Homo sapiens: one gene and its partners. The protein of the gene in region 2 purifies or fractionates together with the protein of the main gene of each other region. This does not show direct contact. Each region holds a gene or a part of one and is shown on either strand. Other genes may lie near its edges.

Region 1 (7,024 bases), on a different chromosome or scaffold from region 2:
GATAACCCTAATTTCTCAATAAAATTGGAAGGCAAGATATCTGAGTTGATTTTTCCTGTTCTTTCAAAATATTGCTAAAGAAATTTGTCTTAAACTTTTTTGGGTAAACAAATGGGAATATTAATTTAATAAAATAGGTGACATTTTATGATAACCATGATGTTGACAAGTTTTACAAAAAATTGAAAATTCTATATAATCTTCTTTGACAACTATTTGCTTTAGCAGATAAGGTTTACAGTTCACAGAGTTTTTTTTTTGTTGTTGTTGTTGAATTTTCAAGTCTTGAGAAAGGGAAGAATTCATCTTGTAAATATTTCACTGTAGGGACCAGCCCCACAGGGTCGGTGGGTCTCTCCCTGTGTGCGGCGACGAGAGAGTGTAGAAATAAAGACACAAGACAAAGAGATAAAAGAAAAGACAGCTGGGCCCGGGGGACCGCTACCACCAATGCGCGGAGACCGGTAGTGGCCCCGAATGTCTGGCTGCGCTGTTATTTATTGGATACAAAGCAAAAGGGGCAGGGTAAAGAGTGTGGGTCATCTCCAATGATAGGTAAGGTCACGTGGGTCACGTGTCCACAGGACAGGGGGCCCTTCCCTGCCTGGCAGCCGAGGCAGAGAGAGAGAGGAGACAGAGAGAAAGATAGCTTATGCCGTTATTTCTGCATATCAGAGACTTTTACTACTTTCACTAATTGACTACTGCTATCTAGAAGGCAGAGCCAGGTGTACAGGATGGAACATGAAGGCGGACTAGGAGCGTGACCACTGAAGCACAGCATCACAGGGAGACGGTTAGGCCTCCGGATAACTGCGGGCAAGCCTGACTGATGTCAGGCCCTCCACAAGAGGTGGAGGAGCAGAGTCTTATCTAAACTCCCCCGGGGAAAGGGAGCCTCCCTTCCCTGGTCTGCTAAGTCGCGGGTGTTTTTCCTTGACACTTTTCGCTACCGCTAGACCACCTTCCGCTCGGCAACGGGCGTCTTCCTAGATGCTGGCGTTACCGCTAGACCAAGGAGCCCTTCTGCTGGCCCTGTCCGGGCATAACAGAAGGCTCGCACTCTTGTCTTCTGGTCACACCTCACTATGTCCCCTCAGCTCCTATCTCTGTATGGCCTGGTTTTTCCTAGGTTATGATTGTACAGCGAGGATTATTATAATATTGGGATAAAGAGTAATTACTGCAAACTAATGATTAATGATATTCATATATCTCTAAGATCTATATGGTATAACTATTCTTGTTTTATATTTTATTATACTGGAACAGCTCGTGTCCTTGGTCTCTTGCCTTGGCGCCTGGGTGGCTTGCCGCCCACCTCACATACCTGATCTTACTATTCTTTGGAATCAATTGATAAACTACTTTGATACATCTTAACTGGAATGTCTAACTAGCCTAAAGCAGTGATTTTCAGTGGGAGGTGACTTTGTACCCAGGGTATATTTGACAGTGTCTGAGACTTTTTGGTTGCCACACTGAGGGAAGAGGTGTGCTATTGGCATGTAGCAGATAGACCCTGGAGTACTGCTAAACATTCTACAATGCAGAGGACAACTTCCTGCAGCGAATTGTCCAGCTCAAAATGTTAGTTGAGAAACCCTAGTCTAAGAAGAAGACTGAGATTGTCTTCTGCATTTGTAAGGGACCTACTGGGTGCTGAAAAAATTGTAAGGTTTTAAAAAGGACACGGAAGAAGTAGATTACTCTTAACGAAATCTGTAATTCGAGAGAGAAATTGATATCTTAAGTGACTGAAAGGTATCATGTCAATAAAAATGCGTAATCTTTGCTTGGATGATCTTTGGAAGTAGTTTTAAGATCGAAATATTGTGTTAACATGATTTGGAAAACATCATAGTGTGCATATATTCATATATGTATATATAGGCGTTCATAATGAAATTTACAATTAAAAAAGGTTGAGAGGCCAGGCACCGTGGCTCACACCTGTAATCCCAGCACTTTGGGAGGCCGAGGCAGGCAGATCACGAGGTCAGGAGATCGAGACCATCCTGGCTAACACAGTGAAACCCCGTCTCCACTAAAAAAAAAAAAAAAAAAATACAAAAAATTAGCCGGGCATGGGGGCAGGCGCCTGTAGTCCCAGTTACTCTGGAGGCTGAGGCAGGAGAATGGTGTGAACCTGGGCGGCAGAGGTTGCAGTGAGCAGAGATTGCACCGCTGCACTCCAGCCTAGGTGACAGAGCGAGACTCCCGTCTCAAAAAAAAAAGGTTGAGAAGGTTGGGGAAAATTACTGGAATGTCCAGAATCAGGAAGTATACTTTAGATGTTGCCTTTAAATTTGAGAAGCAAAGCAAACACAGCCTACCATTGTCTTTCTGTTTCTGTTCTTTAAAGATTTTATTTAATGCCAAGCAATTCTTATGTATTTTTAAAAGTAGTTTAAGCAGAATTTCCTTTTAAAAATCCTTGCCACTGTAGATAATTGAGACCTTGGTTATTTATTAGCTGTGGGACCCTGGGCAAAACATTTCAGTTCTCACTCTCGTAATCTGTAAAGTGGATATACAACTTTCAGTGTATTGTTGAGATAGATTATGTCAAAAACCTTTGTCATTGTTGATAATATTGATAATAATAATGATTAACAAACCTGGCTGGGTGATGGAAAACAGTCTTTGTTTTATTTTCATAAGGATGTTTCTTCTAACTTCAGACTTTTAGAGGTATTAATATTCTTCTTCTTCTTCCTCTTCTTTTTTTTTTTTACTTCTACTTTAAGTTCTGGGATACATGTGCAGAATGTGCAGGTTTGTTACATAGGTATACATGTGCCATGGTGGTTTGCTGCACCTATCAACCTGTCATCTAGGTTTTAAGCCCTGCATTATGTATTTGTCCTAATACTCTCCCTCCCCTTGCCTCCCACCTCCTGACAGGCCCTGGTGTGTGATGTTCCCTTCCCTGTGTCCATGTGTTGTCATTGTTCAAATCCCACTTATGAATGAGAACATGTGTTGTTTGGTTTTCTTAGAGGTATCAATCTTCTATTGAGTGATAATTTTGTGTAGAGCTATCATTACATATCTAAACATTTCTTATTTTCCAAACAAATTTCTTTTAAAAAAAACCTCTATTTGCCTTTGAATTTATGCTTATGCTTTTACAGTATTACCTGCCAGCTAGTTTGTAAGTCAGGCTTTCAGAGGTTCAGAAAAGTGCCTGGTGGGTACATACTGCCTACATAAGTAGGAAGGTTTATCTAGATTTTTGTTCCCCACAAACTGGTACCAATAGATAAATTTCACAGCCCTTAGCTATTGAGATGTGTCCAGGATATAATTGTTTTAAGAGTAACATATATTTGAAAAGGTATGTTGAAATGCCTCATCTTTTGCAATATGATTTGAGTAGTATTGTTGCAATGTAGAACCTTTGTCAATTTGATTTTTCAAAATGATTTACTGTGGAGAGTCAGCAGGAAAATCCTCCAGTACTCGGAACTCTGTTGTTCTTAATTCCACTGGACAGGTGGAATCAACATAGGAACTGTGATGTGTTAGATACAAGGGTGACTCTGGTGACCAGGAATAGAAGCCAAGTGCAATGCCCTCAGAATCTGTGGCCCTGCAAACCAGACTGAACCCGTGCTGTTTATCCCACTCCTGACAGTTTATCCCACTCTTGACACTTCCCCTTGAGCTGCCAGATATTGTTGGAGCAGTGCAGCATAAGAAAGGAGAATGAACACTGGACTGGGAATGAGCAAACCTCTTTAATCTTATTCCATCTCTGATTCTGTCTAGTTGTGTGGCTTTTGGCATGTCTCTGACAAGTGACCATTGGTTGCTTATCTGTAAGTGGAAAGGTTAGACAAGGTCATCTCTTCTGTCTTTAAACTTCTGTGATTTGAGCAAGGCAAGAACAACGTGAGATCCTTCATTGGATGAGTGGTACTGCCACTTCCTCCGCATTCATAGAGAGAAAAGGTAGTTAAATAATGTATCTTTATCTTTCCTTTTTGCTCTTCACCCGATATTGGTGAGTAAAGAGCCACAGTCAATGACAGTGACAAGATAAATGAAGTTCCAGGCTCATGCTGATATTTGTGGGTCCAAGTGTAATATACTGTAATATATTGTCTTAACAGGTACCTGTAGGGCAGCTTGAGAATGAAAGAAAAAGCAGCTCTTTTTGCTTTTTTTGGCTTTGACACATAAAAGATGTCAGTATCTAGGTATTTCTAAACCTGTAGAGGGATTTTCTTTAGTCTTTTCCTCCCAGCCAGCACTTGGTGTAGTGGAGGCCACATTTCTCATTAGCTTGTCCTATGGCATATAAAAGTAAACAATAATGAAAAGGTCATTAGTGTAATACATATTTAGGCTCAGTTACTACCAGTTAAAGCGGTGCTTAAAAATTTAAATTTAAGCACCTGTTCACATATTTAAGTAGCATTACTAATTAAAAATTAACTCCTTTTCTAGAACTAAAACTGAGAATTGGTATTTTGGTAACCATTCTGCTAGGAAGCTCTACCACATTACTCAATATTATGGGATCCCTGAAGTGAACTGAAAGGGAGAAAGTTCAGTGGTGATGTTGCAGCTTTCTACCTTCCTTTGTCAAAACTTCCTGTTTCAGTAGGGAAATGGGAAGAGTGAGAGAGTTGTTTCCTTTCTCTTTCCTGTCTTCCTCTCTGAAGACAAAGTCACTGTGAACTCATTAAAAGGAGTCTAGATTGGTTAATTTGGGTTGACTAGCTAGATTCATTTGAAATGAATAGCTATAATATTTTCTTTGGTATTCTTTTTTTTTTTTTTTTTTTTTTGAGACGGAGTCTTGCTTTGTCGCCCAGGCTGGAGTGCAGTGGCACAATCTCGGCTCACTGCAAGCTCTGCCTCCTGGGTTCACGCCATTCTCCTGCCTCAGCCTCCACAGTAGCTAGGACTACAGGCACCCGCCACCACGCCTGGCTAATTTTTTTGTATTTTTTAGTAGAGACGGGGTTTCACCGTATCAGGATGGTCTTGATCTCCTGACCTTGTGATCCACCTGCCTCAGCCTTCCAAAGTGCTGGGATTACAGGCGTGAGTCACCGCACCAGGCCTGGTATTCTTTACTAAAACATAAATCATTAAAATAATTTGATTCATGCTTTGCTTTAAAAAACTGTTCAGTCATCTACTTTAGCTCACCTCCCTGGAAAATGAATTGTGTCAGAACATTCAGATATGCTTTCAACTAAATAATGTTTATGTTATAGATACATAAACAAAATCTTAAAAAATAAATACAAAGCATTCTTTATTTCACTATTCTTTATATGCAAAGCTAGTTTCATGGATTATGGCATGGCATTTTTGTTTGTTGGATGGTTTTTGTGTTTAATCACAGTTTTGGATTAACCTCTATGTTTTATATTAAGAAAGTTGACCTAGGAGTTGGGAGACATAGATTCTATTCTTAGTACTGCCACAAAAAAATTGTATAACCTTGGATAAACTACCAGATCTCTTTAGACTTTAATTTCTTCATGTATAAAGTGAGAGGGGCTTAGATTTGAAAATCTTTATGGTCCCAAATAGTTCTAAATCATAACTTGTGAATTTCTGTCTTTTGAGGAAAAAAATAGATTTTTAAAAAGTACTAAAATGACCATTTTGTAATACCATCTCCTGCATCTGTTTTTCCCTGTGGCACTACGTTTTCTTCTGGTTATGCTCTGAACATAACCCCCTTGACTCTATCCTACCGTTCTGCCTGTGCCCTTGTTATACTAATTTTAGTTATCCTTTTTGTTTTGGATTTTTTTACGTCTCTTTGCAAATACAGAGACCAAAAGTGGAACCGACAACCACGCTGGCCTGTGAATGCTGAGTCTGATTCTTTTATGGCATTTTTGTTGTCCAGGGAGGTCGAATTACCTTCTGAATTAAAATCCTATACGCTTTATGCTCTGCTATTCGGGAGAACAGTGTTATTCTGAAGATAGCATTGAGTTTTATAAGATTTGAGCCTTGAGACTGCCACTTACTATTAGGTTGCCATAGGATTCTTGGGCTAGTCATTTAACCTCTCTAAGCCTCAGCTTCTATTGCTTAATGTATACAACCTGTTTCTTGCCCAGGAGGCTGTGAGGATTGAGTAATGTTATACATCTGAAAGTGTTTTCTAAAATATAAAGATTTATGACCTTATTGTAGTTGGTTCCACCCCAGTACAATATGCATTCTGAAGTCAGTATTTATCGAGTACCTACTCTGAGGAGAATCAGTAAGAAGTTTATAATCAGACTGGGGATTTATATAAAGTTAAGTGTTACGCACCATAAGAAAGCTATAGCCTAAATTTCTGCAAAAGTTTAGAGAGATTATTTCTGGTTGGAGGTACTTAACAATAGGACTATATTTCTTACATTTATTTTGTAGGCCATTATGTATTTAAAAAGCCATTCTTGGACTTAGGCAGGCTTTTCCTTATTGTGCTAGTACCATTTGATTTTTATTCATAAATACACTAGCTTGGTTGTTTTCTATAACTAGCAACTATTTCTACTTTTTTTTTTTTGCGATGACTCCAACTCTTCATGTCATTTGCTAATTTACTTCCATTTTCATCTTCTGGTTCACTGTTGAAGAATACTAAATTTTGATCCAGTTTTGATCCAGGATTTACTTTTTTTTTTTTTTTTTTTTGAGACTGGGTCTTGCTCTGGCTGTCACTGAGGCTGGAGTGCAGTGGCATGATCCTGGCTCACTGCAACCTCTGCCCTTCTGGTTCGAGTGATTCTTCTGCCTCAGAATCCTGAGTATCTGAGATGACAGGCACCTGCCACCATGCCTGGCTAATTTTTTTGTATTTTTTAGGTAGAGACAGGGTTTCGCCATGTTGGCAAGGCTGGTCTCCAACTGCTGGGCTCAAGTGATCCAATCGCCTTGGTCTCCCAAAGTGTTGGGATTACAGGCATGAGCCACTCACTGCACCTGGCCCTTTTAGTATATTTCTTAAAATATCTTTCAAGATTGGCTTTGAAACTATGGTGACTTTCTAGCA
Region 2 (7,835 bases):
ATCACACTTGCAATTATTTATTAAGTATATCCCCTATTAGAATATAAGCTCCATGAAGTCAGGGAAAGCATTTGTTTTCACTGATGTATCCACAGTGCTTAGTACATGGTAGCTGCTCAATCAATATAAATTGTCAGAATTATAGGTTGGGGCCAGATTATAGAGGGCTATAACATCAGTAAACCAAAGAGCAAGGATCATTATCCCTTTGCAAATAAGTAAACCGAAGCAGAAAGAAATGAATAGTTATTTAAGGTCCCAGAGACAGCAGTGATGAGGCCAAATCTAACACTACATTCAGCCCATTTCTCCTCCCTAGGACAATAAAAGAAACTTTGGTGGGTAAGGAAGTATTTCAGAAGAAGAAAATTAGGAATGAGAAGATGGTGCATAAAAGGTCTAAGAGGACAGCTTCTGAATCTGCCTGTTACACTAGTTGCCTCCAGATGGATAGCAGTTAGACTTTCCACACCTAGAGGAGCACTGCTGTTACATAAACAAATATAGCCACTATCACACTCTTCCCGTTAAGAGAAGAGAATAAAATAACAAACTTCTTTCCTGCACAGAGGAGAAGAAACAACCAGGGTGGGTGGGGAACTGTTGTCCTCCAAGTATCTTCAAAAAACCAAATGGGCAGTTTGGCCACCTGGATTGCTACTCAGCAATCCACAGGGAACAGGAAGAAAGAGGGGGGAAAGATCAGCCTTCCCACCACCAGCTGCAGCAAGGATAAGGAAAAAAAAAATGTATTGTATAAGGCAAGCCACTTGAAGACTACTTATTCCTTGGGAATTATGAGAACATTTCATGTAGAGCATTTAAAAACCTTGCTAATCCATAGGCAGGTGCCAGTGAAAGGAAAAGTGGCATGAGCCCAACTGCAGCATTTCATTGTTCACATGCTGCTGGGGCTAAATTATGTCTGTCACAGGAACTACAAACCAGACCAGGGGTCAGGCTCATTGCTGCTCATCCTGCCAAGCACAGACTGCAAGAAAAAGAAAAGGCAAAGAAATTCTCTTCAAAGAGGATTCTGCAAAAATATTCACATAGTCTACATCCACCCAGGAGTTCCTAGTTGAAGTGGAGGACCAGGGAGTGTGTTCTAAGATTGAAGAGAAAGAGATGTGATATGCTGGTGATAAAGGAGGGGTTTTGAAACAGAAAGGAAAAATGTAAACTGCAAATGGAGAGATAGAGAAATAAACAGAATTTCAAGAGATGTGGGTGGGATGGGGTGGGGTGGGGGGAAGAAATGAAAGTACAGGAGAGAAGGGTAGGGTGTCCAGAAGAGCAGAGCGTCATCAACAGAGAGACGCAGAGGCAAAGGCTAACTGTTGATCTTTTCCCAAATCCAAAAGCTGCTCATTGGCATCCCAATAAATCACTCTACTACAAAGCCCATACAATGGACTGTCCTTTGCATTCAGCATCAAGCAGCATTTAATGAAATATCACACAGCTACAACTTTGGAGACCTAAGGATCTGAATTTAAAATGAACAAAATTGGCTTAGCAGCAGAAGACAGCCAGTAAAGAATTTCGCCCATGTCTGACTCAGCTAGGAAAAGGTTTAGCATTCTAGAGTTAAGCAAATACTCTGGCATTTCTCCTTCTTTTGACATTCCAAGAGGGGGTGTGGTTGACCCCAGGCCCATTCATTTCCAAGGGTGTAGATCTCTCAGCCAAGACTGGCCCCATCTGTTGTGGAGCCAGCCAGCTGTTTATCTCAAAGTAACATATCTATTGCCCTAATTATCCCTATAACTCTTACAAGAGCATCATGTAAGTCAGAATGCTTTCTCTCCTGTTAAATGTCAGTTCGTTTAAAAAAACAACAATAACAAAACAACCAAAATCACTCTTCCATGGGCACCTTTCAGTAATGGCAAATGAAGGTTAACAGCGCTTCTAACTTTCCCTTTCTCTAATGTGTTAAAATGAACCCCTCTTCCCTAATCGATCTCTTCAAACCGTTATTTGTGAGTAGTGACTATGCCTCAGGAAACAGCAGCTCATTATGGTACCATTGTCAGTGGCAAAGAGCCTATGCAATGTAATTTAAAACACACAAGCACAAATCTGTCGGCTCCACTTCCAAACAATCTTGAATCCAGCAGTCGGAGAACGGAAAACATTTAACAAAAACGCTGCTTCCAGCAGCCTGAAAGAACCTTCGCCAGACACGTGAAATGTTTCTGACTGGCACGGAGTGCACCATTAAAGGACACTGTCACCTCAAATCAGCAGAAAAGGCGAGACAAACCACATAGACATACACACATAAAATAAAGCCCTACAAAACTTAAGCACGTTCATCTTAAAAATTAATAACTAGTGCTCGTCCAAGCGACATTCAAATGTTCTAAAGTAGTGCGACCACATTAATTCACTGTCTCCATTTCTCCCCACGCATCACCCCTTCCCACTCAAACCTCAGCTCTCGGGCCGTGTGTGACAGGACTGCAGTCCCCCACCTCTGCCTTCCTCAGATTTTCCAAGAGCACTCCCCAACATCCTTCCCAGCCCAGCCCCCTCTCTCCGCCTCAAAAAGGTTGAGAGGAGTTGCGACTAGGGAATTGGCAGGCACCCGTCCTCTGGCGGGGGAAGGTTGCTGGAGTTGTTCTTTGCAGTGACCCAAATGGCACAGAGCTTTTCCCCTTAGCTGTGCCTGCAAGCCTCTCCCCAATCCCCCCCACCTCCCCACCGCTCACAGCTTCCCAAAAGAAAGCCTTGAGAACTAAGCGGGAGGAATAACTTGGTAGAAGCATTTGAATAAATCACTTCAACTCACCTGGTTTGGGATTTTTCTCCCCACCCCAGGCATAAACAGAAATGGATGTGCGAATGAGTCACGCACGCAAGGGAAGGTCTGCGATGTCCTGAGTCCAAGGGCTGGAGTCAGTCCCTGCCCTGGTGCTGCTGCTACACTTAGCTCAGCTGGAGCGAGCGGCAATCGCAAGCCCAGCAGCAGCAGGGGGTGGAGAGACCGTAGCACAATGAATGCAGTGGGGCTTTTGCAATGACATCATCCCTCTGTCCAAACGTCCCCAATAGCCATGCTCGGGAGCGGTGCTTTCTGGGAACTGTAGTCTTCTTACGTCCTGAAGGGATACCCAGGCAATCCCCGAAACTACAATGCCCAAAATGCTCCAAGTGGGACGCGCCCAGAGTGAAGGAGCAAAGGGGACTCGGCCGCCATGTTAGGAGTACTGGGACGATTCCGCGGAGCCGGGCAGAGGTTTTAGGGGTGCGCAGGAGTCAAGTGGTGGTTCAGTGGGGACGGTGAGGTGGAGGACGATCTGGTCGGATAGCCGCGGGCACGAACCTGGGAACCAGAGGGTGGAGGCCATGCTGGGGACTGATGTAGGGCGGGACCGACTGGAAGCGGCATCCAGAGGCCCAGTGAGCCTCGGTCTCAGCTCCTGAAGGGGTTGCATGGGGCCCTACGCTTCCTTCTCCATTTTTTAGCTAAGAGATTGAGAGAGTCGGTTTACTTTTGGGCTTGGAGTATCATTTAGATCTGTTAACAGTACAGTTGAGAGAGTTGGTGTCTTTTGTTGAGGTGCGAGGACCCGAGGCGGCGACCCTCGCCTTTATTCGGAGAAGCCCACTTCCACCCACAGAGTTGGGGTAGTCCTCCGAAATGCATTTTTGTTTTGCCGTTTGTTTTCCAACCCCCTTTCACTCTCCCCAAAGCTTCAGATTCACTGATTTTTCATACAGGAATGATTAACAAAGGCGTCCGAAGAAATCGTTGTTGGAAGGTGACCAAGGTGGAAAGAGACGTTGCTTTGGCCCTGCAAGTAAGAAGAGAGAGGGAATAGCCTGAAGGAGTAACACTAAATTTAAAATGACACTTTTTTACCAACCAGCGAAAGCAGATGTTCAAAGGGGATATTGGCCAGGTGCGGTCGCTCACGCCTTTAATCCCAGCACTTTGGGGGCAGACGCGGGGAGATAGCGTGATTCTAGGAGTTCAACCCCAGCCTGGGCAACATGCGGAGACCCCGTACCGTCTCTACAAAAACATTAAACAAAAAAATTAGCTGGGCATGGTGGTGTACCCCTGTAGTTGCAGCTACACTAGAGGCTGAGGTGGGAGGATCGCTTGAGCCCGGGATGTTGAGGCTGCAGTGAGCCTCGATCCTACCACTGTGCTCCAGCCTGGGCGACAGCAAGCCCGTGTCTCAGAAAAGGCGGGAGGGGTGGGATATTATTGATGATAGGCCTTCTGACGTCTGGCAATAGATTCCAGAGTAACATCGGTCATGGATAAATTTTTTTTTTAACTAAGTGACTGAAACCAAAGTTAATTGTCTTTTGAGTGATTTTGCACAGTATCTCAAAATGAACTGTACTTTTTTTCTTGTGTCACTGAAACAGTGCTGTGTGTTCTTTTTCAGAGTCTGTCACACTAAGATGAGAAATGTCCTTTCTTCCTGAAGGTGTCTGATGTGTAAAAATATGATATACTTTGTGCTGTTTCCTCCCTTCCCTTTTGCATATTATTCTGAAACAACATTAACTAGTTACTTTGCGTCATTGAAGGTATGCACTTCCCCTCTATGTTAGGAGTGAATAAAATTAAAAATAGATCCTTATAACAAAGAAAGGCAGATAGAATGATTAAAAATGACCAAAACATGTTAGAAACAGTCTCTCAGGTGTATGCAGATGGTAATTACAAAAATACTTTTTCAAAAAATGATCTTCTGTGTCATGTTTCTGGGAACAAGTCAAGATGAATGAGTTTGATTTTTAAGCAGAAGTAGTATGTGTTGGTGTCATCCATGAATACAACAATGAAAAAGGCTCAAAGTTGTTGTTATTCAGAAACTTCTCTAAGTAATGGTGGTAAGTACAGGAAAAGGAGCAATGTCTACCATTTTCTTTCTAACCTTCGATTTAACTATTGTAATGTTGTAAGCTTAACAGAGACTTACACTTAGGCTTAATTTCAAGCTCTTCAATCATTTTTCCCGGTTGGTGATTCAGGTGTATTCTCATGTCTTATGTAAACTTATCATGAGTGTTGTTGATTTATAATATATTTCTTTATGTAAGCCATAGCCTTGTCAGTTTGAGTTATATGGAAGACAAATTGTAGGGAAAAAGAGCAACAGATTACTCAGAAACCTTCTGTGTGAGCTGGGCATAGTAGTGCATGCCAGTAGGCTTAGCTACTTGGGAGGCTGAGGCAGGAGGATCACTTGATCCCATTAGTTTGAGGCTGCAGTGAGCTATGATTGTGTCACTGTACTCCAATCTGGACAACAGTGAGACTATGTCTGTTTTTAAAAAAGAAAGAAAGCTTGTGTTTGAGAAGTGATACCTCTAGAATACAGTGATTTCTATAATTTGTCATGTGTTTGGGTAGTTTGAAGTTTTTCTATCCTTGTATCTAATGGACATCTGACCATAAAGATGAAAAAATCCTGCACTCATTATAAATTTTATTTATAAAATTGATATTTGAGGAGTTGGGGAGGCCAGCTTCTGAAAAAATAACAGTGTCCCATAGAAACACCACAACTTAGGAAAATATTGTTAAAGTGGAATTAGGAATATCTAGAGGAGGTAAAGCTTTTCATCTCTCAAAAAAGAATTAGGGCCAGGCACAGTGGCTGACACCTGTAATCCTAGCACTTTGGGAGGCCGAGATGGGCACATCACTTGGGGCCAGGAGTTCAAGACCAGCCTGGCCAACATGGCGAAACCCCATCTCCAAGAAATAGAAAAGTTAGCCAGGTGTGGTGGCGTGCGCCTGTAATACCAGCTACTAGGGTGGCTGAGGCAGGAGAATCGCTTGAACTGGGGAGGTGGAGGTGGCAGTGAGCAGAGATTGAGCCACTGTACTCCAGCCTGGGCAACAGCAAGACCCTATCTCAAAAAAATAATAAAGAGAATTAGGACATGGATTTGTATTAAAATTATAGGTAGCTCATTTAAGAGTATGAAGCCAATTGCTGTTAGAGCAAGGGTTTTTTTCAGTAGAGGTGTCAGGATAACCTATACAGCTCTAAAAGTATATGGCTGTTACCTTCCCATCCCTGTTGAAATCTCCAGGGTTAGAACCAAGTATTGTGTTTTTAAAACTATAGGTGAGTCTACAAGAGTTGGGTGGAGTAGTCCTCTACATCCTGTGTTTGTATTTTTGCAGTAAGTCACACAATAACAAAAGCTTTGAGAAAGATTTTAGGTTTATTGCTAATTATACCCATGAATGAATTCTGAAAATGTGTAGATAAGGAATTTACCTGGTGAACGGTTTACACATGGCAATTGTGGGAGGGAGAGGGGAGTGAGAGGAGATGAGATCAGTTTTAGCTTTAAGAGGACCAACCGGGCCAAGCACGGTGGCTCACGCCTGTAATCCCAGCACTTTGGGGCCGAGGTGGGTGGATCACGAGGTCAGCAGTTCAAGACCAGCCTGACCAACATGGTGAAACCCCGTCTCTACTAAACATACAAAAAATTAACTGAGTGTGGTGGCGGGTGCCTGTAATCCCAGCGACTTGGGAGGCTGAGGCAGGAGAATCGCTTGAAACTGGAAGGCGGAGGTTGCAGTGATCCGAGATTGTGCTAATGCACTCTAGCCCGGGCAATAACAGCAAAACTCCCGTTTAAAAAAAAAAAAAAAAAAGGGACCAACCATGATATCCTGACTAACCTGTATATTTCTTAGAATGAGGGTTTAGCCTAATATTAAGAAAGTCTAATGTTAAGAGACACCTAGTAAGAGCTCAACGCTGTGGTAAAATTATGATAGTTATGCAGAAACTTAAAAGCTGAAGTATCCAGAGACAATATATTGTTTAGAATTTTCTGAAAATAAAAATTTTCTTGCCCTAAGTCTTGAATTTTTAAGTTATTGATGTTAATATTTATGATCTTTGAACAAATGATATTATAATAGAGTATCTTTTAGGTCACAGAGACCCCTTTTTAGAGCTGAGAAATCTTACAAATTCCTCAGCCCATGTTTTACAGATAAGGAAATGGGCATGCACACAGTGAAATTAAAAATTGCTAGTGGTCACACTGTACATTGATGGCAAAGGCAGGGCAGAATTAGAATCCAATTATCTTACCTGTTCAGTGTCTTTAATGATACAGCAAGCTCACCACTGTTTCTCTTTACTCTTTAAACAGTGGATTTTTTTTGTCATGATTTTGATTTCTTGTATAATGCAGTTCAATACTTGTTTAATTTTAATGTTGGACTCTCAATTTTTAAGACAGTAGTACACATGAAATGTGCTTTATATTTTATGTTTCAACAAGAAAATACACATTTTCCTTTTAATAGAGGAGCTTAAGTTCCTAATTTAAATAATTGAGTATGAGCTTCAGATACTTCAGAGTGGTATTAATAAACTTTGCTTTTCCAAATGGTTTCAGATAAGCATTTAATATTCAAAGCTTCCTCTTTACAGCTTAGGAAGTGGTCTGGTTAAGTGACTTGAGTTCATACAGGAATATATCGGTATGTTCCTAATTCCCATCAAGTGTACCATTATGTAATCATATAATCTTGCTAACAGATCTAACAGATTACTTTTTTTTTTTTTTTTTTTTTGAGACAGAGCCTTGCTCTGTCGCCCAGGCTGGAGTGCAGTGGCGCGATCTCTACTCACTGTAACCTCCGCCTCCCAGGTTCAAGCAATTCTTCTGCCTCGGCCTCCCAAGTAGCTGGGACTACAGGCAGGCACTACCACACCCGGCTAATTTTTGTATGTTTAGTAGAGACGGGGTTTCACCATGTTGGCCAGGCTGGTCTGGAACTCTTGACCTCAAGTGATCCGTCTGCCTCTGCCTCCCAAAGTGCT
Region 3 (7,024 bases), on a different chromosome or scaffold from region 2:
GCACACGTCTACGCATAGAGTGGGACCAGTTTCAGATTTAATTCTTCTAAAAAGAAGAATTCATCCATCCAGCCACCCGCTTACTCAGGAGCAAGCCTCGATCCAGCCTCAGGGCAGCCGGAGGAGCTGCACAGGAGCCTTTACTCATCAGCAGTGCAGCTGTTCTATCTAAAGGCTCAGTCGCAACACATACTACATCATTTCCGTACACTCTGGTTCTCTGTTGAGAAGTTTATGCTCAGGTCTACACAATGTTTACCTGCTGGGACTGCGTGTTCAGTGGTACTAGTTGCAGGTCGGTACTATCACCGGTATCTACAAGATAACTATCTGACAGCTGAAAGTCAAGTTCTGACAAATTCTGGACACAAACTTGAACATATTTCCTAAAGTGGAAAAACAAAAAGTATTATTTTGATATGTAAGAACTTTATTAAATATATCTTAGCTTTGTTAAGGAGACCCTCTCTGCCTGGGGAATCAAAAAAGCAACAAAGCAAAGTAAGCTAAGTTGTTGCATAAGTTTCCCTTCAGATTTCACACCGAAAAGTGCCAGAAAATAAACCTTTTTGGCCGGGCACGGTGGCTCACGCCTGTAATCCCAGCACTTTGGGAGGCCGAGGTGGGCAGATTATGAGGTCAGGAGATTGAGACCATCCTGGCCAACATGGTGAAACCCCATCTCTACTAAAAATATAAAAATTAGCCAGACGTGGTGGCACGTGTCTGTAATCCCAGCTGCTCGGGAGGCTGAGGCACGAGCATTGCTTGAACCTGGGAGGTGGAGGTTGCAGTGAGCTGAGATCACGCCACTGCACTCCAGCCTGGTGACAGGGCGAGACTCCATCTCAAAAAAATAACAAATAAAAATAAATAAAAAAAGTTTTTAAAGAGGCAAGTTCTGTGAGGCAATGGAAGAAAGAATATAGTTTCTGACCAGCCTTATTAAGTGATCATGGCTGGTCACCCTCACTGGCCTTTGGGGAGCCACGGGGAGACAGCAGCAGCCCTCCTCATTACAGGTGAAGACTCTCCATTGAGAGATGATAGGCGGGGCTTATATCCATTTCCATTACATGCAAAACTTTGAAAATATTAATAATAGTTACTATTTTTTGAGACAGAGTCTTGCTCTTGTCGCCCAGGCTGGGGTGCAATGGCACGATCTCAGCTCACTGCAACCTCTGCCTCCCAGGTTCAAGTGATTCTCCTGCCTCAGCCTCCCGAGTAGCTGGGATTACAGGCGCCCGCCACCATGCCCGGCTAATTTTTGTATTTTTAGTAGAGACGGGGTTTCACTATGTTGGTCAGGCTGGTCTTGAACTCCCGACCTCGTGATCCGCCTGCCTCGGCCTCCCAAAGTGCTGGGATTACAGGCATGAGCCACCACGCCCGGCTGAAAAATAATTTTTTAATAAGGTTCTTTTAGAGATTATTGATGTTTTTAACTATTAATATCTACAGTTCCCTTTGCTGTGATTTGAAGGGGAAAAAAGCTGCTAGTATAATGTTCCATTCTAAACATGGGTCTGACGTTTTTGTTTCCAAATTATCCACACATCATCAATGGATAAAAAGTTGTGGTGAGAGGCCAGGCTAGCATCCCGAGCCCATTGATCAACGCTAGCACCGTCACTAAGGTAGGACACCTGGACACCGTGGGCCTCCCGGTGCAGTCAACAGGAAGCACACAGCCCCGCCTGCCTCAAAGCAGAACTGGAGTCTACTCAAGCCTTTAGGGCAGCTGTTTTCCACTGGGGCACGTCCGCCCCACCCAGAGGACACTGGGCAGTGTCTACAGACATCTGTGGCTGCCACACCTGCAGGTGGGGAGTGCTACTGGCATCTCATGGGAGAGCCTGGGGTGCTGCTCAACACCCTACAGCACACAGGAAAGCCCCTACAACAGAGTTATCTAGCCCAAAATGTCACTAATGCTGAGCTTAAAAGCTCCTGTTCTAGAGGTTGCAGGCAATTGACAAGAAATACAGGGACAGGAGAACTAGTTAACAAATCCAGCCAGATCCAGAAAGGCGGGCGTCCAGAGGAAACCTGGCCTGCAAGTGAACAAGTCGATGGCTTGAAAACAGGGAAGAAAGGATGAACAGAGATCTAGTGGTCTGATGGAGATTTTGGACCCCAAGTCACACAAAGCAACCATAAAAGGTCATTTTCAGACAGTTGGGAAAACCTGAATATGAACTGGATGTCACAGGACACCAGGGAATTGTGGATTTTAAGACACAAACAATGGCCTTGTGGTCACATAAGAAGACATCCTTGGTCACCACGAAGGCCAGTTTTGAACATTAGGAACCTCCACTTAGAAGAGTCTGGGGAAAGAAGCCAGGGCCCGCACGCTACGCCTCCGTTACCGTGTTCCTGAGGACAGGAGGCTGTGTGTGGTCCTGAAGGGTACGCTGAAGGTCAGTGCGATGACTGTGGAGTAGATGGACCACGGGCAGTCAATCGACACCTGAGGAGGAAGCACAAAGACACTCTCAGACCACTCGCCGACGGACAGCACAGCCACCACCACTGCTGCCCAGACTCACCTGCAGTGCCCGCCCACGCCCTAGACATTTTATTATGGCTTCAACCACTCATTATCCAGGAAGCAAAGCCTTACCCAACACATACACAAACCAACGAGAAACAGGAAGCTATGCATACAGACAAGAGAAACGAACGCAGAACTGGCAAGACATGCACACATCACCAGAGTCACCTCAACGGCGGAAGAGCACAGCCGTCCTCTAAGCAGCAGACCCACCTGCTGCTCCCATACACGCAGGGCCGCGGAGCCATGCATGTTGCAATGTGCACAGGGTTTTGACAAAGTGCTTTCAGTCATGTATTTCCAGATGACATTAGCCAATCAGTAACTACTCCATAGTTAATGAATTATCTAAGCATTTAATCCATGTGAGGCTGAATATGTAACTGAAAACCAAATCAGTTTAGGGGCACAGTGAGGACAAAGCTATTACATCCCTTAAGGGCAGGAAGGAAGCAAGTCTCAAGCCTTATTCCCCACAGGGAAGAGGTGAATACCCCAGCACACAGCGTGCGTGCCGCCAGTGCCAGGGAAGAGAGGATAACACGGCACATAGCACAGGTGCCACCAGCGCCAGGGAAGAGAGGATAACACAGCACACAGCACAGGTGCCACCAGCGCCAGGGAAGAGAGGATAACACGGCACATAGCACAGGTGCCACCAGCGCCAGGGAAGAGAGGATAACACGGCACATAGCACAGGTGCCACCAGCGCCAGGGAAGAGCGGGGTAACACGGCACACAGCACAGGTGCCGCCAGTGCCAGGGAAAAGAGGATAACACGGCACACAGCACAGGTGCCGCCAGCGCCAGAGAAGAGTGGGATAACACGGCACACAGCACAGGTGCCGCCAGCGCCAGGGAAGAGAGGATAACACGGCACATAGCACAGGTGCCGCCAGTGTCAGGGAAGAGTGGGATAACATGGCACACAGCACAGGTGCCGCCAGCGCCAGGGAAGAGTGGGATAACACGGCACACAGCACAGGTGCCACCAGCGCCAGGGAAGAGCGGGATAACACGGCACATAGCACAGGTGCCACCAGTGCTGCGCGCTCCTGCTGAGCTAAGCGCCACCTTCGTGAATGGTGAACGTCTGTGTGAGTTAAGGGAAAGACACTTCCTCAGGTTCTTCAAAAGCTGAACATTACAACATTCGTCTTCAGGCGTGGACTTGTCTGGTGACTCCGTGCTTTGGAAAGACGGCATGCCTTGCCCTTTGCCCCCGCTGCTCTTGGGCGTATACTGCGGCCCCTGGGCTGTTTCAGGGCCCTCAGGATTGATTTCTGGGCTACGAGACTTGGGCACACCCTGAGTAACATGATGCAGCGACACATTCCATGAGCTGATATCCTGTGGCTCTGGGACCGAAATCACATCTTTCTCAAGTAACTGTCAGTAAGTACCAGCACCAAAGCCTAAAATGAGACAGCTCCTCCGTGGCTGAGCTTATGAGTTTCAGTGGACAGACACCGAGGCACACACGACACAGACCTCCTCTGGCCTCGTCACCGGTCTAATGGACATGACCCAAGTTTTACGCCCCTCATGCCTAAGCCGGCCCTAACCTCTTACAGCAAACTCCCTGGCCCCTGGAACTGAGAGGGAAAGGTAGAGCTGGCTTGTCTCTGCCCTTGCAAAAAATGCACCCCTTATCTAAGAAAGGGTGATTCACAGACAGACAGAACTGCTAAACACATGCCCAGGGCATCGGGAATCAGAAGGAGCCAGGCTAACAGCAGGCATCGCTACATCGCCTTTCCCAGCAGGCAGGCGGGCGGCGGACGCCCCACAAGCTAAGCTCCTCCACTGTCCCTACTCACTTTGTGGTCTGTGGTAACCATGCAGCGGCCAGTTCTCTGTTTGTCCTTATGCTTCCTGTGGGGCTCTGCCATCCCCAGCATGTCACTCTCCCCTCCGAGTGCTGGGGCTGAAGGTAAAGAGAGAACTTCCAGTTCAAATTCGATCACGTGGTACGCAGGCGCAACAGGCAGACTGATGCTCGTGACCTTGTCGGAGGACTGAATCCGGAGCGCGGCCTCAGAAGACTGTTCTACGAAGGACAGAAAAAGTCACTTCAAAGCTGTTCCCTCGGTTTCACTTGTCCTTTTCCTTACAGCAGGTGATGGCCCAGCAGTGAGGCCACTGCTCAACCTCTCCCGCTCCTGCGCACCTGGCAGGCAAACCCAAGAACAAGGCCCCTAGGACAGAGCAGCCCTGTGTGAAAGCCGGCAGGCAGGCGCCCAGACCCATCATTGATCTCAATCTGAAGAGAGGAAAAGGGCATTTCCCACGGGGCCCACCCAAGTCCTGTGTAGGTCCCTGCATGACTTTCTCCCGTTCCAGCTCATCCGCAGATCCACCCCCACCCCAGGGGAGCAGGGTCCTCCCCTTCCCCTTCCTCGTGGCTGGGAGGATGGGAGTGCTCAGGGCTCTCAACAGCACCTGCAAGGGCTGCTCTGCTTTTGCTTCTCGGGAGCAGGGCCAGCCCAAGGGGGACAGGGTCTGGCAGGCATCACCATGGAACGTGACCCCAGCCGTGACCCCCATCTCCTAATCCTCAGCCAGACAAGCACTGCTCGGCCACTCAGCGTGTGAACCACTCTCAGTTTATCACCTCAGATGGGACCCCAGCACAGGCATCAGGCCGCAGGGCTCCTATGGAACACGGACTCCAGACACTGTTGAGGGGCGCTCAGCAGGATGGCAGCAAGGCCAGGCTCACCCTCACACCCACACAGTGCAGGGCAAGGTGGGCATCCTCCTTGGGCCTGGGTGGGCGGCACCTCACCTCTCGTGTTGGAGTAGACCACAGCCCTGCTCTCCGCCTGGCACAGGATGAGCATGGCTTCGGCATTGCTAAGCTGCAGGCTGTCTCCATTCTTTATCGTATAATGGCCGGTAGTGACAGTGAACTTGACTCTCTGAGGAATGCCTGCCAGAAGGCTATCTAAAGGAAAAGAGATCGTGGCTCAGCACCGCTGCCAACCGGAAGACAGCATCTCAGGGCCCGCAATGGGGTGAAAGGGGCTCTATTTCTTTTACTATGAAAGATTTGCTCCTTTGGGATCTCCATGAATTCCTTCTACTTCCATTCCCTTCTGCCCTAACTTTTCATCTCAATGATGTGGACTACAGGGTTGAAGGAGAACCTTGCTGGGGAAAAAAGAATCCTGTGAGTCAAGGAGTCTTATACCCATCTTGGTTCAGCAAGTCAGGGATTATGATCATGACTACGTCTCTGAGGGTCACAAAATTTGCCTGCCCATTAGTAGTAGAAGAGAATCACATAATGAGGCTTAAGAAGAGACTGTAAAGAAAACTTGACTGTGCTGGTGCTGCTCAAATATTCAAAACCTTCTCTGGATTTTTCAGCTTCAGGCCACGGGCTTTTGGGTTAAGAACAGTCAGCAGTCAGGTGGCTCCCCCTCACTCCAAGACAGCAATGAGAGGCAGGAGTGAGCTGAGGCCTCTGAGAATCCTGCTGCAGGGAAGACAGAAGGCAGGCAAGATACCAGGACCGGGGGGAGAGTGGACAGAGACAGGGGACACTAGGCAGGAAGCAGGAGCCAGGCCATGAGCCTGGCACTGCAGCCGCTGGGCCATGGGGAGGGCAGGGCCTGCTGGCTGGTGCTTCGGCTCCCCTGCGGGAATCGAGTTCAGCTTCTCTACACAATGTTCCAATGGAAGAATCACTGGAGAGACTGACTGCTGTGTCCCACATCTGACAGCCTTTGCTGGTGGCCACACAAGAGGCACAAATGCAGAAAAATAGGGGGAATGGGGGAATAACAGAAAAATGCCCTTTGTGATTTTTTTCCACGTAGAAGAAACAGGCAAATAAATAAATCGTTGCTAGCCCGAACAAAGGAGACATTCACTCACTCTTGTTCAGCTGCCACATGTTCTTCAATCATTTGTTTATAGCAACTCCTTCCAATTTTAGAACTTATCAGAAAGGACAATAGCTTTGAATTTCTCAAATGCCATGCCAGACGGACAAGTTTAATCAACCCTTTCAAAGGAAAACTTTTTTTTTTTTTAAGAGATGGAGTTTTGTTCTGTCACCCACGCTGGAGAACAGTGGCGCAATCACAGCTCCCTGAGGCCTCAAACTCCTGGGCTCAGGAGGCTGAGGCAGGAGCCTCAGCTGGGGCTCCAGCCTGTAGCTAGGACTAGAGGCCGTGGCGCACGACTACACCCAGCTAATTTACTTCATTTTTTTATTTTGCAGAGATGGGGTTTTGTCATCCTGCCCCGACTGGCTTACCCATGCTGGTCTCAAAGCCTTGGCCTCCCAAAGTGCTGGGATCTGAGTATAGATCCTAACTAAATCTAGTGTTTAGCATTTGAAACGTACTTCTAAGCAGGAAATTATATACATATTTATGAAACCCTGTGGTAGACATTAGCTGCTTCTTGGCCTAATGTGACACTGTAAAATACACATGTAGTTTTCAACCCCAT

Evidence for each region.
Region 1: the proteins of RAB30 (region 2) and VPS13C purify together in Homo sapiens (affinity purification with mass spectrometry; 2 studies listed by BioGRID and IntAct, with this or other methods). This does not show direct contact.
Region 3: the proteins of RAB30 (region 2) and TRAPPC10 purify together in Homo sapiens (affinity purification with mass spectrometry; 2 studies listed by BioGRID and IntAct, with this or other methods). This does not show direct contact.

What each region holds. Positions count from the first base shown.
Region 1 is NC_000015.10:62,050,448-62,057,471, reverse strand, and holds part of VPS13C (intermembrane lipid transfer protein VPS13C), read left to right. Parts: intron 1-7,024. UniProt on the Homo sapiens protein: Mediates the transfer of lipids between membranes at organelle contact sites. Necessary for proper mitochondrial function and maintenance of mitochondrial transmembrane potential.
Region 2 is NC_000011.10:83,068,894-83,076,728, forward strand, and holds the start of RAB30 (ras-related protein Rab-30), read right to left. Parts: upstream 3,005-7,835; 5' UTR 2,798-3,004; intron 2,570-2,797; exon of another isoform or gene 2,439-2,569; intron 1-2,438. UniProt on the Homo sapiens protein: The small GTPases Rab are key regulators of intracellular membrane trafficking, from the formation of transport vesicles to their fusion with membranes.
Region 3 is NC_000021.9:44,085,285-44,092,308, reverse strand, and holds part of TRAPPC10 (trafficking protein particle complex subunit 10), read right to left. Parts: intron 5,508-7,024; coding exon 5,349-5,507; intron 4,611-5,348; coding exon 4,381-4,610; intron 2,477-4,380; coding exon 2,376-2,476; intron 387-2,375; coding exon 260-386; intron 1-259. UniProt on the Homo sapiens protein: Specific subunit of the TRAPP (transport protein particle) II complex, a highly conserved vesicle tethering complex that functions in late Golgi trafficking as a membrane tether.